Regions from separate parts of the Homo sapiens genome. Here region 1 is linked to region 2. The links come from fine-mapping of genetic effects on gene expression. A gene starts in region 2. The other region holds a variant in brackets. All regions are shown on one strand. Distances are between the middles of the regions.

Region 1 (8,338 bases), 87 kb after region 2:
AATTCTGAATGTAGCATGTGCCTGCCTCCCATTTTTGCCTTGTAAAGAACTCAGTATGCTATTAAATTATTAACTTAGTTTATTTGAAATAGTTCCAAGATATTTCATGCCTCCAAGATTAAAACTAAAACCCAGGTTAGCAGTTTTGAAGAAGAGTGGACATGAGCCTTGAACATTATATATATTTGTTACATCTGATAGAGATATTTTAAATTGTCTGCTAAAAACCCTCTTGCTTTGTAGATGGGAAAACTGAGAGTTCCAGTGGCTATTTACTTGCTCCAGCTTTTATTTCCAGTTCATAGCAGAAGCAGGACTTAAACTTCAGGTCTTTTCGTCTCAATCACATGGTCTTTCTCTTTGCATTGTGTATTTGATAACGTTTTTAAATAAAACAAAGCATTTTGCAACTAGTGAAACTGTACAAAAAGTCATATAATGTGACCAGAAGGGAGATTATTAAAAATTATAATTTCACTTAAGCAAAATGTGTATAACGCCATTTACTGTTTTTCTATGTAGGTGAAAAGAGATTTGAATGCCCGGAATGTTCTAAAAGGTTTATGCGGAGTGATCATCTCTCCAAACATGTCAAAACGCACCAGAATAAAAAAGGTGGTGGGACAGCTCTTGCCATTGTTACCTCGGGAGAACTGGACTCATCTGTTACAGAGGTGCTTGGCTCCCCAAGAATTGTCACAGTTGCAGCCATTTCTCAAGATTCGAATCCAGCAACTCCCAATGTTTCAACCAACATGGAAGAATTCTGAAAAGTTATTTATAACAGAGACCTCTAGTGCTGCACTTGTTTACACACCTTTGAAAATCTGGAAATGGGCTGGTCAAGTGGATTACAGAGTAGGAAATTATGTTTTCATTCTTGGCTTCTTTAAGTATTCCAGGGTTTGGGGTCAACACGTGAAGTGTTGAATTTTAAAAAATACAAAAAGCAGACTGATGTACTGGAAACAGAAAAGTATTTCCTCCATACTATAAGTTGTAGTTGTTTGGAAATATATCACATAACCTTTATACAGAATCTTCCCATCTCTTAATATCATGTGTTAACATGTTTAAAAAGACCTTAGTAGTTTGCAGGCTGGACCTTAATTGGACTTATTTTCTTTGAAAGTACTTTGTTATAAATTCAGTCAGTAATAATTTACGTGTATTCTTTTTCTCTATAGCACAGAAAACAGATAGTTAACTGATGATAGGGATAATACTGTATTTCCTTAGCTTGATTTTTGGAAAATCAACCGAAAATAGTTTGGCCGTCTTTTCTAAATGTTAGAAATTCTTCAACAGTTGAATTAGGTAAGTTCCAAAACAGTAATCTGAGATGCATCTCAGATCTTTATTACCACTACATTATAGTAGTGTGTATGCAGACAATCAGTGAAGTCCAATTACTTTCTCCATTTGGAGACACAAGAGGAACATAGAGTTAAATCTTAGGTTAAATTTTAGGTTGACACCTTAGGAAAATGCTGGGAAAAAAATGGTTAAAACAAAACTCATCATAGCTTCAGAAAAATAAAATGAGGCATCTTAACATGCAATGTTCTAAAGTTAGGATTGATTATATTCCTAACCCTAGGTTGAACCACAAAATTTCATTTAAAATGTTTATATTTGGAAATATTTGCATAGAGTGTAAATTGTTCTGTAGTTTCATATTTTGTAAATATGAGTTATGTTGACAATGTGCAGAATTCTTTATGCTTTGATGTGGTAGCCAAAGAAAGAATTACACTTTTTTCCAAGGCCAGCAGAAAATTCTCTTTTAACTACATTGTAATTCTTGTTTTCCTCTACTAAAAATTGGCCAGTCCCATTTTATTTCTAGTGCTATGTAAGAAGGTAATTAGGAATTATAACACAGTAATGTTTTTATGTTACATCAATAACTGAATTTTCCCTAAAAATTAGCCTAATATATAATAGATATATTATGAAGCAAAACTTTTATTTTTGAAAAGGCAGAATAATTTTCAGTGAAGTAAGTGACTAAAGAAAAAAACTATATTATTGTTTATGCAAGGGTCTTACAGGAAAGGGTCTTTTTTTTTTTTTTTTTGAGATGGAGTCTCGCTCTCTTGCCCAGGCTGGAGTGCAATGGCACGATCTCAGCTTACTGCAACCGCCGCCTCCCAGGTTCAAGCGATTCTCCTGTCTTAGCCTCCTGAGTAGCTGGGATTAACAGGCGCCTGCCACCATGCCTGGCTAATTTTTGTATTTTTAGTAGAGACAGGGTTTCGCCATGTTGGCCAGGCTGGTTTCAAACTCCTGACCTCAGGTGATCTGCCCACCTCGGCCTCCCAGAGTGCTGGGATTACAGGCATGAGCCACCATGCCCGGCTAGGAAAGGGTCTTACTAGGAAAGATGGCCAAAAGTTTCATATGAAAAAAATTGGATTATAAACCAGTAACTTAAATATTAATAAGGATATTTTATGTTTTAAAAAAGTATTTACACAGAATCATAATCAGTGAAATTGACCATTTGAAAACTAAAAGTTTTTACCTACCTGCTCAATTTATTAACATCATTGCTTTGGGGACTGTTTGAATATAGGTACGTGTTTTCTTGTGCATTCTCTATAATTTCAGGAAAAGTACTAATGCGAATTCTCTTCCAAAATTGTGATGTTTCTTGTATTTTTGATGAAGGAGAAATACTGTAATGATCACTGTTTACACTATGTACACTTTAGGCCAGCCCTTTGTAGCGTTATATAAAACTGAAGGTCTTTTGTGCTTTCAGTTTGTATAAAAAAGCTTTGAGATTAAAGGAAAAAAAAAATTTTTACACTGTGGTTATAAATTTCAAGTTTCTTAAAGCTTTTGTAGACTTGTAACAGAGTCTTTAAATTTAAGTTGGATTTTGTAAATTGTTTTGTATATTTTATTTAATGTACTCTTAACAACTGATGTATCTGGCTTTAAAACATCAGAATTGGTTTGTTGTTTTGTTTGGTACAGAGGAGCATTTGGTAGTGTTCATTTTAATTTTATTATATAGGAGCTGAAACATCAAATATATATTTTATCTATCATTATGCTACACAATCAGTGCTATAAATTTTTTTATGCAAAGAAACTTTCTTAATGTTTTAATCATGTTTCCTCAGAGTGACACTTTTTGTTGTTGTTAATACCAAGTATGAACACTCTGCATCATTATTCCATGAACCAGTTCTAATGCAAACCTATGTATGTCCATTAGAAATGGAAGTTATTTTTTAATCAACAATGAGGCCTATTATAAATTTATCAGATGAATCTAGATAGCTTTATAGCATATAAAATATGTTAATTTGTGTTAGCAGGTGCACATTTCACCACTGAAATTAGAAATATTTTGACAGTCTGTTCTGCATACCATTCTGAGTCTACTTTTCTGTCTTTAGAAGAATCGTAAATTTCAGTGTCCTTTATTTGACTCAGTGGGATATAGCTGTTATAAGTAATAGGGCACAGATGTGCAGTAGAGTCTTGTTTAATGGCATTTCACTGTTCATTCCCTTTACCACCGTTATAAAACTTTTCTTTATTGTAATTATCAGTGCAAAGCTATGTATTTATCATGGTAAAACTCCAGTGTTAGAATAGTTTTTTCTTACAGTATACTTTCTTTGGTTAGGTTTGTGTATGTGTTGCTGATTACATTAGAACTTGATGTTAAGTCATTTATCACACTCTCATGAGAGCAGTAATAAAAGTGTGTAATCTAGGAGAAAAAGTTAATTTGTCAAACTTAGATAAGCATGATGTTTAGGTCCTATTTTTCAATTTTATAACTGTTTTATTGCAACAATATTTGTATTTAAGTCTCCATTTTAATGCCTTGTGGTGTTTTTTTATGCATGTCACTAAGTTGTCATCCCACATAAATTGATGTGCAGCATAGGGTATTAAATCTACATAATGATTTTAAAACAGAAATAGTTGATGGTAAAATGTAAATGTTTTGCAAAAATTCCTTATAAAAAGTTTTGTAGTAACATTTCACTTGTAAATTTTTTTT[G/T]TAAAAAAAAAAAAATGAAAAAAAAAGATGAATCCAGAAAAAAACCTGTTTCCCATATTCTAGAATTTAGACAATTATTCTGCCAGCAAAGCCTCTGGGGCTGTAATTGACATTTTTACAGTGCTGATTTGTATAAAATTTGTTTTTTGTGGATTTGGAAATAAAATCATGTACAAGTTGTTGCCTGCAATAACAATTGCAAGTAACCTATTAAAAATTCCCTTGAGTTTAACATGTTTCATTTAATTATGTATACTATAAAGCAGCAATAAATTATTTGAACTATCAACCTACTTATCATGAACACTGGAGAGTTAAATGCTTCTCACTGGAGAACACATTGGCCACCGTTCGTAATTCCTCGTATTGAGATCTGGTCACCATTTCTCTGAACATACCGCCAAAGAACTCCAATTCAAATTGCATGTTAATTTGTAGCCATTGCTCTAGACATTTATGGAAATTAAAATTTGATTTAGAGACACTTTTTACTTAAATATTTTAAGCAATCAATGTTAGGAAATTATAGGAAGACCTGAAAACGAAAAACATAATTAAAATATTATTTAAGCTCACAGAATCACTGAGAAGCAATATAGGCCACATAGATGCCACAAAGACTACAAGCAGAAACTGTCTTCCTCCTGGGAGAGCCCTGCAAATCTCATGAAGACCTTTAGTAACATAATGAATACATTATTGTAACAACTTCAGCTAACACATTTCCAGACTCACACCAGATATAGACATAGCAAAGCGAGGGTTTGGCCCAGGGTGGCGGAGGTAGGATGTTAGGCAGCAAGAGAAGTACGCTGGCCCACTGACAGAAGACTCCAAAGACTCTAGGTTTTAGGTAGTAAGCAGGGGCTACAAGGTGTTTGGACAGAGAACCTTGTACAGCAAGGTCCTAAAGGCATAGTTGTGTTACAACTTTGTAAAATAATGTGTTCATAACACTGACTGAATCAAAGAATTTATGCTACTCTGTCAAATAAGACAGTAAGGAATTGTCAAAGGATGTTTTCTATCCAAAGTAAAGATACACTTCAATTACCTGAAAAATTCGCATTAGAAAGCATCAGGATGATATCGTATAAAAGGGGATAATGCAGGCCAGGCGAGGTGGCTCACGCCTGTAACCCCGGAGCTTTGGGAGGCTGAGGTGGGTGGATCACGAGGTCAGGAGTTCAAGACCAGCCTGGCCAACATGGTGAAACCCCATCTCTACTAAAAATACAAAAATTAGCCGGGCGTGGTGGCGTGCGCCTGTAGTCCCAGCTACTCGGGAGGCTGAGGCAGAATTGCTTGAACCCAGGAGGTGGAGTTTGCAGTGAGCTGAGATCACGCCACTGCACTCCAGCCTCGGCAACAGAGCGAGTCTCTTGTCTCAAAAAAAAGGATAATGCAATTAGAAAATGTCATTGTGTTTTTCAATTTTTAATATAGTTTGCTTCTTGTACTTCTAGAAATTTCAGCCACATGAAAAAGACAATAATAAAGAAAAAGGGATAAATCACCTTGAAAATTGACAAAAGCTGTTGGTGTAGTAAGTTAGGAAAGCTGAAGCAGTGCTAAAAGCAATACTAATAGGGTGTGGTTTACAATGCCATTGGTAATGACAACTTGAAAATAGAAAAATATACAGTATTGTTTATTTTTTAATTAAAAGTTCAGATGCTTAATTTCAGGGGTGCAGAGACTTCAAGTGTCACAGCAAACTTGAAATACTTTATTCCTTTGTGAAACTGAATAATATATTGCTATATTTACTGCCTGAACAGTAATGTCTGCTTAATATACACACAACCAACTTGTAATTCGGTAGCAGGACTTTTAAGGCATGTATTTTCCATTCTTTTAAGATTGGCTGATTAGCATAAACCTTGGGCTCTGTTCCTCTTAGTAACAGGTGGCAATGAAATAATTTATTTTTGGATACCTGAGAGTAATGTCAAGCAGAAATAGTGGAAGGAAGGAAGAGAGAAAGGAAAGGAAAAGGAGCATAAAGGCCTATTTATAATGCAGTGGGTTGATCTCCCTGGTTAATAGCTAAGCACCGTGCCAAAAGAGATCAACGGAGAGTCTGAGGATTTCAGGCTGGATTCCTGGTTCAGCCACTTAGTAGGCACACAACCGTGGGCAAGTTATTGAACTTTTAAGCACTTATTTTTTTCTACTTCATAGAATAAAAGAGCAATGCTTATTAATGTTAAGCATTATGAATAATACATAGGTCTGTTAAGATCAAACAAGAAAACTATATTGAGTAACACATAGTTGTGTTTAATACGTTATTATTGTTAATTATAAGTTAACCCAAAAGGCAGACGGGTGTCTTAGTCCATTCGGGCTGCTATAACAAGATAAACTAGACTAGGTAGCTTATAAACAACAGAAATTTATTTCTCACTTCGGAGCTAGGAAGTCCAAGGTCAAGATTCTGGCAGATTCAGTGTTCATTTACTGGTTCATAGATGGTGACTTCTAGCTGTGTCTTCACATGGTGAAAGGGACAAGACAACTTTCTGGGGCCTCTTTTGTAATGACGCTAATCCCATTCATGAGAGCTCTACTGTCATGATCTAATCATTTTTCAAAGGTTCCACCTCTTAATATCACTGGTAATATTATTGGTAATTGGGTTTCAACATGAATTTTTGGGGGGCACAACTGCTCAGACCATAGCAGGGGGCATGGAATAGTTCCCACCTGGACCAATGCTGAAATGTCTTGAAAATGGGCAACAATACATCAAAAAGTTAATTCTCAAATCCCATTTTAAAAATGAAATTTCAGTGGGAATTTCCAAATTCAAACATATTTTTCTCAAACTGTGAGCTACTTTGCCATACTCTACCTCAAAATTTTATGACAGTCTTTTTCCAATTCTAAGAAAAATAAAAGGTTTAAATCTTAGTTACTTTCTTCCCCCCCCCCCCTTGAGCCAAGGTCTCACTCTGTCACCCAGGCACACACCACCATGCCCAGCTGGTCCTGGGCTCAAGCGATCCGCCTGCCTCCACCTCCCAAAGTGCTGGAATTACGAGCATGAGCCACTGCGCCTGGCCTAATTCCTAATTTTTAAATGTTAATTACAATTACTGTTTGCCTACCTCAAAGTGATAACAGACAAGCACACCGGTGAACAAGAAGCAAACCAATTACTGAAAAACAGAAACAGCTGCTCATGTGTTGTTCACTAACTTTTGTGGGTTTATGTGTGGATGATTTTCTATATTTAAAAGCATTCTCTATATTTAGAAATATATGTGTTAAATAAACCCAGGCATACAGGGCAAATGTACCCCTCTTTTCAGCTACCTACCAAATTGCAGCCAAAAAAAGAAAACATGGAATGTGGAGTTCAAAAGTTTCTTAGACAACTTCCTCTCAGACTTGGTTCAGAAAAGGATAATAGGATGCTCTACTTTTACTTTGCTTTTTAGATTCTTTGTGAAATAAGATAGGATATAGAATAAATGTCTAAACTTATAATGCCCTGCAAGGCTGAGGCATCTCTGCTGGCTGTAGCTTCAGTTGTCCAGTTACAGCCTTCTTGCCCATTTAACTCTTACCTTTGCTTCAGATCCTGTTCTTAACTCTGAGTTGCTCTGCTCATTCCCAAGCTTACCTTTGTTGGAGATGCTTTTTCCAATTAATACATTTATGGAGCACTTACTGTGTGTCAGATTCAGGCACAAGGGATGCTGTTTTTCTTTTCTATGCTAACTCTGCCTTCTTGCATCCCAACCTCAGCTGGATTTCTGGAGCTCCTTGAGATCCATTTACCCTATGCCTAGGAATGGGCAGGCCAGCAGTTGCAGAGATACTGGAGTCTATTGAGACCATATCTACGGGGAGGAGCCGAGGCTCAGGTAATCTGAAGCAAGTTAACAGGTTTCAAGTCAGGGTCAGAGACTTAAGAAATCAGATGTGGGTGTTAAGATCAGACAAAAGCAAATTATAGGGAACAGGAGAAAATTAAACGAGCAGTTGTCATAAACGCCAGTTTGTCTTTGAATCATGTCTTTCTAGGTGGTTGGCTTGGTTCAAATTTTGTTATTTATTATCCTGCTATGAATTGTGGTTTCATAAATATTTTATTTATAGTAGTAGTATTTTTTAGATGTTTAGATGTGGAAACATAATAACGTTATATTTTCTGCTGGTAAAATTGTTCCTTGCTTGTATAATGTTATGCTGGAATTAAATACATCAGTAAATCATGGTGCTGTGTGAAGGGCATTATGGCTTCCAAGTATTTGGTCACCTTAACAAGTCTGAAAATCACTGTTGAGGAAAATAATC
Region 2 (8,338 bases):
ATTGTTGGCTAAGGAATTTATTTTTAATGTGATTTTATATTCTACCAGGGCCTTATTATGGTAACAACTATGCATGGTCCAGATGTACTAAGGAGGCTATTTGTTCTAAGTGAAATACGTTCACTGAGTCCTGTGTCTAATTTCTGGTTGGCTATACTCTCAGTTAATACACTTTTGAGCAAAGGTGGACGTTAAGCTTTGACTATTCTCTGGTTTATGGTCTCTCCAAATCTTTGCTATCTGCTTCCCAAATACAAAATGATTTGTATAACTTTCGGAGGGTGCTAGGAAAAAAAAAAAAAGAAAAAAAAAATGAAGCAGCTTAACAGTTATTTAAAGAGTAGCTTCCTGGCTGGGGGCAGTGGCTCACACCTGTAATCTCAGCACTTCGGGAGGCCGAAGCTGGTGGATCACGTGAGGTCAGGAGATCGAGACCAGCCTGACCAACATGGTGAAACCCCATCTCTCTAAAAACACAAAAATTAGCCAGGCATGGTGGCAGCCACCTATAATCCCAGCTACTTGGGAGACTGAGGCAGGAGAATCACTTGAACCTGGGAGGCGGAGGTTGCAGTGAGCCAAGATCACACCATTGCACTCCAGCCTGGGGAACAAGAACAAGACTTCGTCTCAAAAAAAAAAAAAAAAAAGAAACTTCCTAAAAGAGACACTCAAATACAGTCCCTTTTTCTCATTTATGCCATGAACTAGTGTCCAAGTCCCCTCCTTGGCAAGTCCCCTCATTGTTCCCCAACCCTCTGGATCTCTCAATTCCACAACTACAAGGATAATTCGTGGCAGAGGACTTCTACCTCTAGGACACTATTTCAGCTTTATGGACGTGTTTGAGCTGAATGGTCAGTGCTTAGTGTCATTAAATATTTCACATACAAATGCTGATTTCCTCTGTGTGTGTACACACTGGGCCATATGTAAAATATACTTATTCCTTTTTTTATTTTTTGAGACGGAGTCTTGTTCTGTCGCCCAGGCTGGAGTGCAGTGGCATGATCTCGGCTCACTATAGCACCCGGCTCACTATAGCACCCGGCTCACTGCAGCCCCTGACTCCCAGGTTCAAGGGATTCTCCTGCCTCAGCCTCCCGAGGCACTTGCCACCACGGCTGGCTAATTTTTGTATTTTTAGTAGAGATGGGACTTCACTATGTTGGCCAGGCTGGTCTTTAACTCCTGACCTCAAGTGATTCACCCAGGCTAGTCTTGAACTCCTGAACTCAAGCGATTTGCCCACCTTGGGCTCCCAAAGTGCCGGGATTACAGGCATAAGCCACCGCGCCTGGCCCAGGGTCATAAATTTTTAAAAAGTACACACTGGGCCAGCCATGATGTAAAATATATTTATTTCTGTGGGTCATAATTTTTTTAAAAGTTTGAAAGCCACTGTTTTCTAGGCAATAATGAGCATAGGAAGGAATGTTTTTAGACTGCTTCCTCAGGGAAAAGACCACCCTCGCAGGCCTGAGGCCGAGTATTTTGTTGAATTTATATTTACAATGTTGAAGAAAAAAATAATTCAGGATACTTGTTAAAGACAGCAATAAAGACTTTAGTCAAGGAGAGACTATCCAATGGGGTCTTGCAGTGGGAGAGAGAGATTGGGCTCAACTATGAATACAAAGACAACTAGAGATCTGAAGCCAAGGAGCAGGATGGAGTCAGTGGATGGAAAATTACTAAGGGGAAATTTCCAGAATAAAGGAGGATTCTGGCTAAACCAATTTAATGGGGTTATTGCTGAAGGCAGGCCAGGGTGCTAAGATATCGAGAACAGGGGATAAGGAATTTGATGAGATACCAAGTATGGTCAAATATTAAGGGTGAGGCGTTTTTACCCAACCAACCCAGCAGGATTCTTGCTAAAACTGGACTAAATGAACAAAGCCACTAAACTAAGGACAGAGTTCCAGGTCAGGACCTAGTCAGAAAGAGGACTTAGAATAACCAGATTAAAGTTTGGTCAAAGGAGAGAGTCTTTGTCAATATTACCTCCCTAGCAAAACTCGCTTTCCACCGGGTATCACACTGAGGACTTTTGGTTGTTATCTTCAAATAGAAGAGAGCAGAGGAAGGAAAAGCAAGCTCTTTCCTGATTCTTCTAAGGTCACCAATCTCATTCATGAGGACTCCAAATTTAATCCTAATTATCTCCCAGAGACCCTACCTTCTAATTTCTAATACCATCACACTAAGGGGTAGAATTTTTCCTTCCTTCCTTCCTCCCTCCCTTTCCCCTCTCTCCCTTTTTTTTTCTTTCTTTTTTTTTTTTTTTTTTTTGACACAGTCCCACTCTGTTGCCCAGGTTGGAGTGCACTGGTGCCATCTTGGCCCAATGCAACCTCCGCCTTCTGGGCTCAAGTGATCCTCCCGCCTCAGCCTCACAAGAAGCTGGGACTACAGGACAGCGCCACCACGTCGGCTAATTTTTGTAGAGCCTGGGTTTCACCATGTTGCCTAAACTGGTCTGGAACTGCTGGGCTCAAGTGATCCGCCCGCCTTGGCCTCCCAAAGAGCTGGGATAACAGGAGTGAGCCGCGCCCCGTGTAGAATTTCAACACATGAATGGGGAAGGGGGCAGAGAACACAAACATTCAGTCCATAACAGCCAGGGACTAGAAGACTTTGGTCCACCATAAAAAGCAGGACTTATGTTTCATGGATACCAGTATTCCCACTTATCTATAGGGTGGAGAATATTTAGGACTTTGCAGATTCATACTGATGGTAAGCATTATTATTATTATTATATATTTTTTGAGACGGAGTCTTGCACTGTCGCCCGGGGTTGGAGTGCAATGGCGTGATCTCAGCTCACTGCAACCTCCACCTCCCGGGTTCACGCGATTCTCCTGCCTCAGCCTCGCGAGTAGCTGGGATTACAGGCGCACACCACCACACCTGGCTAATTTTTTGTATTTTTAGTAGAGACAAGGTTTCACTATGTTGGCCAGACTGGTCGCAAACTCCTGACCCCCTGATCCACCCGCCTCGGCCTCCCGAAGCATTATTTTTAATCTATGGTTCAGAGTCAGTGACATTGCCTCTCTGAAGCAGGTTTTCCAAACGAAAACGACAATGAAAGCCCCAATTCATAAGACTGCAAAATGTCTTCATTTATCTTGGTGAACTGGGAGGAGGAGGGGACCTGAGGATAGAGACAGTATATACGTAAATGTAAGAAGCACTTTTGAGCTTTCTATATTGTACACGATGGGGAAAAAGCACGTTGTTCAGGGATCTCTGGCTCATTGTATAAGATGGGGTAGACAATACCATGTAATTCTTTATTCGAATTGCTTTGTCTTGCTGCATGGCTTTGTCATCAGCTGATTTTGCAATTACCTTAACAAGCAAAGGAAATGCCAGTCAAGTTCAGCATCTGGGACCTCCTCACCATTGCAACATGTCAGGCCTCAGGCAGGAGACAAAAATGCCCAAGGCTGAGTGTGAAGCCCAGGTAAGAAGTGAGACAATGGCTTTGAGCCTGGGGTGTAAGCATGCCTTGTTCCCAAGGCCAGTATTTACATGTGGGGTCACTTCCACCTTTGGTACAGTTAATCAGGCGCTGATTACGTTCCATGGCATCATCCTGACTTCAGGACTTTGTAGGAAAGCTGAGGCAGGACACTGCTCAAGTGCATTTGACAGTAAGATGCTTTGTGCAGCCAGATGTTAATTCCACTTGCCCTTACGCTTGCTTACGCTACACCGTAAGCGGGGCTGACCCTTATGGAGCTGGGCTTTTCTTCGCCCGGAGACTCTTGTCAGATAAGGCTTAGAACTCCGCCAACCACTTAGGCTTTTAGGCAAAACGCGATGCAACCCTTCTTAGAAGGCGGGTCACTGCTCTGCACCAGCTGCCAGCCAGAGAGACAACAAATAAAAATGGAAGATCCTTCTCCGTGAGAAAACAGGCCTCGGACTCAAAGCAGGGGGCCTGAGGGGAAGGTGAGCAAAGAAAGGCAAGGCGAGGGCGCTGCTTCAAGAAGCCGGGTTCATTCAAACCCCGAGGACAGCAAACCCCGCCTCCCCACGCCGCCGCCCGCTCAATCGCCGAGCGCTCCGGGTGTGAGCTCGCCCCGCGGGGAGCGGCTTGGAGCCGAGGAGGCGGCGGCAGAGGTGGTTTGGGCAGCCCCGCGCGGCGGATAGGCCCAGGCAAACAACACCCATTCCCCCTCCTCCTCGCTCAGTTCAACTCCCACTCGGCCCCGGCCACGCCCTGCCGCCACCGCCCCCTCGGGCAGCTTTCCGCTCGGCAGCCAGGCCTCGGTCGGGGGCGGGAGAGAGGCGGTGCCTCGAAGAAGGCACCGCGACCGCCGGAAACTACGAGTACCGACAGCCTTCGCGGTAGTGCCCCACCCCCTTTCTCCCACCACTCAGCGCGCGTCACCCTGGGCTCAGCCAATGGAGACAGAGCCAGGGAAAAAGGGCGCCCGGGTCCGGATGCGCCTCAGGAAAGCCATGCTCCCTGCGCGGGGGCAGCGGGCAGTTCACCCAGCGCGCCGACCTGTTGGTGGTCCGCGCGCGCCCACGTCCGCCGCTCTCGCTTGCCTGGATCAAGGGCCCTACTTTTTTCTTTAGTGGCAATTGGAGGGATTGCTGGAGGGGGTTTTTGAGTGGAGGGCGCTGGGAAATGAGTAGGGGGCGGGATATCCTGAGACAACAAGTTTGGCTGTATGGAGGGCCTACCGGCAGCGCTCCTGAGCTAGAACGCCGAGAGAAAGAGCGCCAGAGGAGCCAGGGAGGAGGAGAAGAGCTGCTAAAGGAATAACCCCGAGAAAGGGGGTGGAGAGGAGGCGGCCCCAGCGCCCCGGCCCCCGGCAGGTCGGCGGCCAATCCGCTGGGGGAAGGGGTGGAGAGTCGGAGGCTCCGGCGGAGAGAGGCCGAGGGGGGTGGGGAGTCGGCCAGGCTCGCACCGCCCTGGCCCCGCCCCCGACCCGCGCCGCCGCCCGCGCCGCGCGCCGCCGCTGTCAATCAAGGGCGAGTCAGCCGGGCTCGGGCGGAGAGAGGAGCTGCTACGCCACAGCCCAGCGGCGGCCATTCGCGGAAAAAGAGGCAGAGCCTGTGCCAGCTACAGCCTCCTCCGAGCCACCGCGGGCGGGCGGGACCGGCCTCTCCTCCCGCCTCGCCCCCACCCCCACCCACCTCTATCCCAGTGTCTCCGTCTGAGGGTTTGTCCTGTTAATGCGGGATGAGCGGTACGTATTCTCCACCCCCCTCAGTCTCCTTCGCCGCCTCCCTCTCTCCCTCCCTCCCCAGACCCTGCTCGGTTCTCCCCCCTCCCCCGGGGCCGCTGAGATGCTTTAAGGGGAGGAGGAGAGGGCGGGAGGGAATCGGGGAGGGAAGGAGGGTTGTGTTTTGTCTTAATGTCTGAGAGAGAACAACCTCCTTCTGGGTGTTGCTCTGGAGCCGATGGGTCGGGTTTCAAACCACGTTTTGTGATATCCCCCTCCTCCCTTCCCTCCTTCTCCCCCACCCCCTGCCGGTGTGCGTGGATCGCGGGTTTATGGAGATTAATGTTCGGGGGGAGGGGGGAGAAGAGGAGAGGAAGAAGACGAATAATAATAATCCTAATAACCTGTTGTCGTGTGTGTGTGGTGGGGGGGTTTGTTGCAGATCAGAAGAAGGAGGAGGAGGAGGAGGCGGCAGCGGCAGCGGCGATGGCTACAGAAGGAGGGAAAACCTCTGAGCCAGAGAATAACAATAAAAAACCCAAAACCTCAGGCTCCCAGGTAAAAGCAAACAAATTAAAAAAATTCATCACGACACATTAGGAGAGAGAGGGAGTTATGCCCTTTGAATGTCCAGAAGTAACAGAATAAAATGTTTATCCACTCAAAGCATCTTTCTGAGAGTGTGGAACTTAAATTGTAAATTCATCAAGTTTTCACCTCTTTGAGGGTATAACGCTGTTTAAAATTACATCAGGAATTCAGACTATAAGAAAACGGTGTGTGTGTTCCCAAGGGCATTTTGAGTTTAGGAACATAACACTTTACAAAGTTGTAAAGAAATTTCCTTTTATTTAAACTTGATATTATAGGACTTGCTTCCTTATTCATATAGTTCTTATCTACTTTTGTTCGTATTTCTTTTTGATTTCTGCTGCTTCCTAAATTGTTATGTAGAGCTGTCAAAATAAGTAACCCCCTGGCAACTACTGGCCTCCACTAAATCCGCCCACTTTTTTTCCCCCCCCCCTCTCCTTTACCGTCCCATTTTGGGTAGGACTCTCAGCCCTCTCCTCTGGCTTTACTGGCAGCTACTTGCAGCAAAATAGGGACTCCTGGTGAAAATCAAGCAACTGGACAACAACAAATTATTATAGATCCAAGTCAAGGATTGGTGCAACTTCAAAATCAACCACAACAGCTAGAACTGGTAACAACGCAACTTGCTGGAAACGCTTGGCAACTTGTTGCCTCCACTCCTCCTGCTTCAAAAGAGAATAACGTTTCTCAACCAGCCTCTAGTTCGTCTAGTTCTTCCAGCAGTAATAACGGGAGTGCATCTCCTACAAAAACTAAATCAGGTAATTCTTCCACCCCTGGTCAATTTCAAGTCATACAAGTACAAAATCCAAGTGGTAGTGTACAGTACCAAGTAATTCCACAACTTCAGACAGTGGAAGGTCAACAAATTCAAATCAATCCAACTAGTAGTTCATCTCTACAGGATTTGCAGGGTCAAATTCAGCTCATTTCTGCAGGTAATAATCAAGCTATACTCACAGCTGCTAACAGGACAGCTTCTGGGAATATTCTTGCTCAAAACCTGGCAAATCAGACAGTTCCGGTCCAAATTAGACCTGGTGTTTCAATACCACTGCAGTTACAGACTCTTCCTGGTACTCAGGCTCAAGTTGTAACAACCCTACCAATTAACATTGGAGGAGTGACTCTAGCTTTGCCAGTGATAAACAACGTGGCTGCCGGAGGAGGGACTGGGCAGGTTGGCCAGCCTGCTGCTACTGCTGATAGTGGGACTTCCAATGGGAATCAATTAGTTTCCACACCCACCAACACCACTACTTCTGCCAGTACTATGCCAGAATCTCCCTCCTCCTCCACTACCTGCACAACCACTGCTTCAACGTCTTTGACAAGCAGTGACACATTAGTGAGCTCAGCAGATACTGGCCAGTATGCAAGCACATCAGCCAGTAGTTCTGAACGCACCATTGAAGAATCTCAAACACCTGCTGCTACTGAGTCTGAAGCCCAGAGCTCCAGTCAGCTTCAGCCTAATGGAATGCAGAATGCACAGGATCAATCAAATTCTCTTCAGCAGGTGCAAATTGTAGGCCAACCTATCTTACAGCAGATCCAGATCCAACAGCCTCAGCAACAGATCATTCAGGCTATTCCACCACAGTCGTTTCAACTCCAGTCAGGGCAGACGATTCAGACCATCCAGCAGCAGCCTTTACAGAATGTTCAACTTCAAGCAGTAAATCCGACTCAGGTGCTTATCAGGGCTCCAACTTTAACACCTTCAGGGCAAATCAGTTGGCAAACTGTACAGGTTCAGAATATTCAGAGTCTTTCAAATTTGCAAGTTCAGAATGCTGGGTTATCCCAACAATTAACCATCACCCCAGTGTCTTCAAGTGGTGGCACAACTCTTGCTCAGATTGCTCCTGTGGCTGTTGCTGGTGCCCCAATAACTTTGAATACTGCCCAGCTTGCATCAGTGCCTAACCTTCAGACAGTGAGCGTTGCCAACCTGGGTGCTGCAGGTGTTCAAGTGCAGGGAGTTCCCGTTACAATCACTAGTGTTGCAGGTAAGTTCTGACATCTTTTTAAGTACCTTTTAAATAGTTTTTCATAACAATTATTGCTTTTCTCTCCTAATTCTAAGGTTTGACGTAGACCTCTGAAGTAAACACACAATCATAAGGAACCAGAAATAGCAATATTATACTAACAAACATAGCTCTGTAGTAATCAATGTGACATGTTCACTTTTGTAGATTTTATAATAATGTGTTAAATTTGTTAGTTTTTTAAAAAGTATTGTTTTATGGGACAGAGCTTTCTGATTAGAATCATAATTGCCTTCTGTAATTTAGTGGTCTTATTTGAGTACATTCCAGCTCTTCAGAAAGAACCCTAGTCGAAATGATATTTATCTCTTCTTTGAGGGAAAGTAGTTTTAAACTGAATTGGTATATATAATTGTGAGTCTGTTGAACTTTTAATTCTGTGGTGTAATAAGGCTAACTTTTTTTTAGTGGAAGTTATTTCTCAAGCTTCAGCATCTTGTCGCCCATGCTTTTGTGTTTTATTACACTGGTTTTAAACTAGATACTGATGCAGTT

Direction of the effects. Alleles are on the strand shown, and positions count from the first base shown. SD is a standard deviation of normalised expression in the study named.
As copies of T replace G in region 1, the expression in CD4 T cells of the gene that starts at base 5,041 in region 2 goes down (small effect, 0.39 SD a copy in Kasela 2017).

Evidence for each region.
Region 1: its variant is fine-mapped to the expression of SP4 in CD4 T cells (Kasela 2017, PIP 0.95). The same link has a PIP of 0.9 or more in NK cells.

The regions. Positions count from the first base shown.
Region 1 is chr7:21,510,500-21,518,837 of GRCh38, forward strand. It overlaps SP4 (Sp4 transcription factor), which reads left to right. Exons shown (of 6, transcript NM_003112.5): 6 at 523-4,323. The coding sequence ends at 770. Among named protein-coding and RNA genes, the nearest start is that of DNAH11, 28 kb to the right of the region's middle. The variant G/T (reference allele first, on the strand shown) is at 4,031.
Region 2 is chr7:21,423,043-21,431,380 of GRCh38, forward strand. It overlaps SP4 (Sp4 transcription factor), which reads left to right and starts at 5,041. Exons shown (of 6, transcript NM_003112.5): 1 at 5,041-5,216; 2 at 5,635-5,750; 3 at 6,247-7,801. The coding sequence starts at 5,210. RefSeq lists silencers at 3,975-4,364, 4,745-5,334.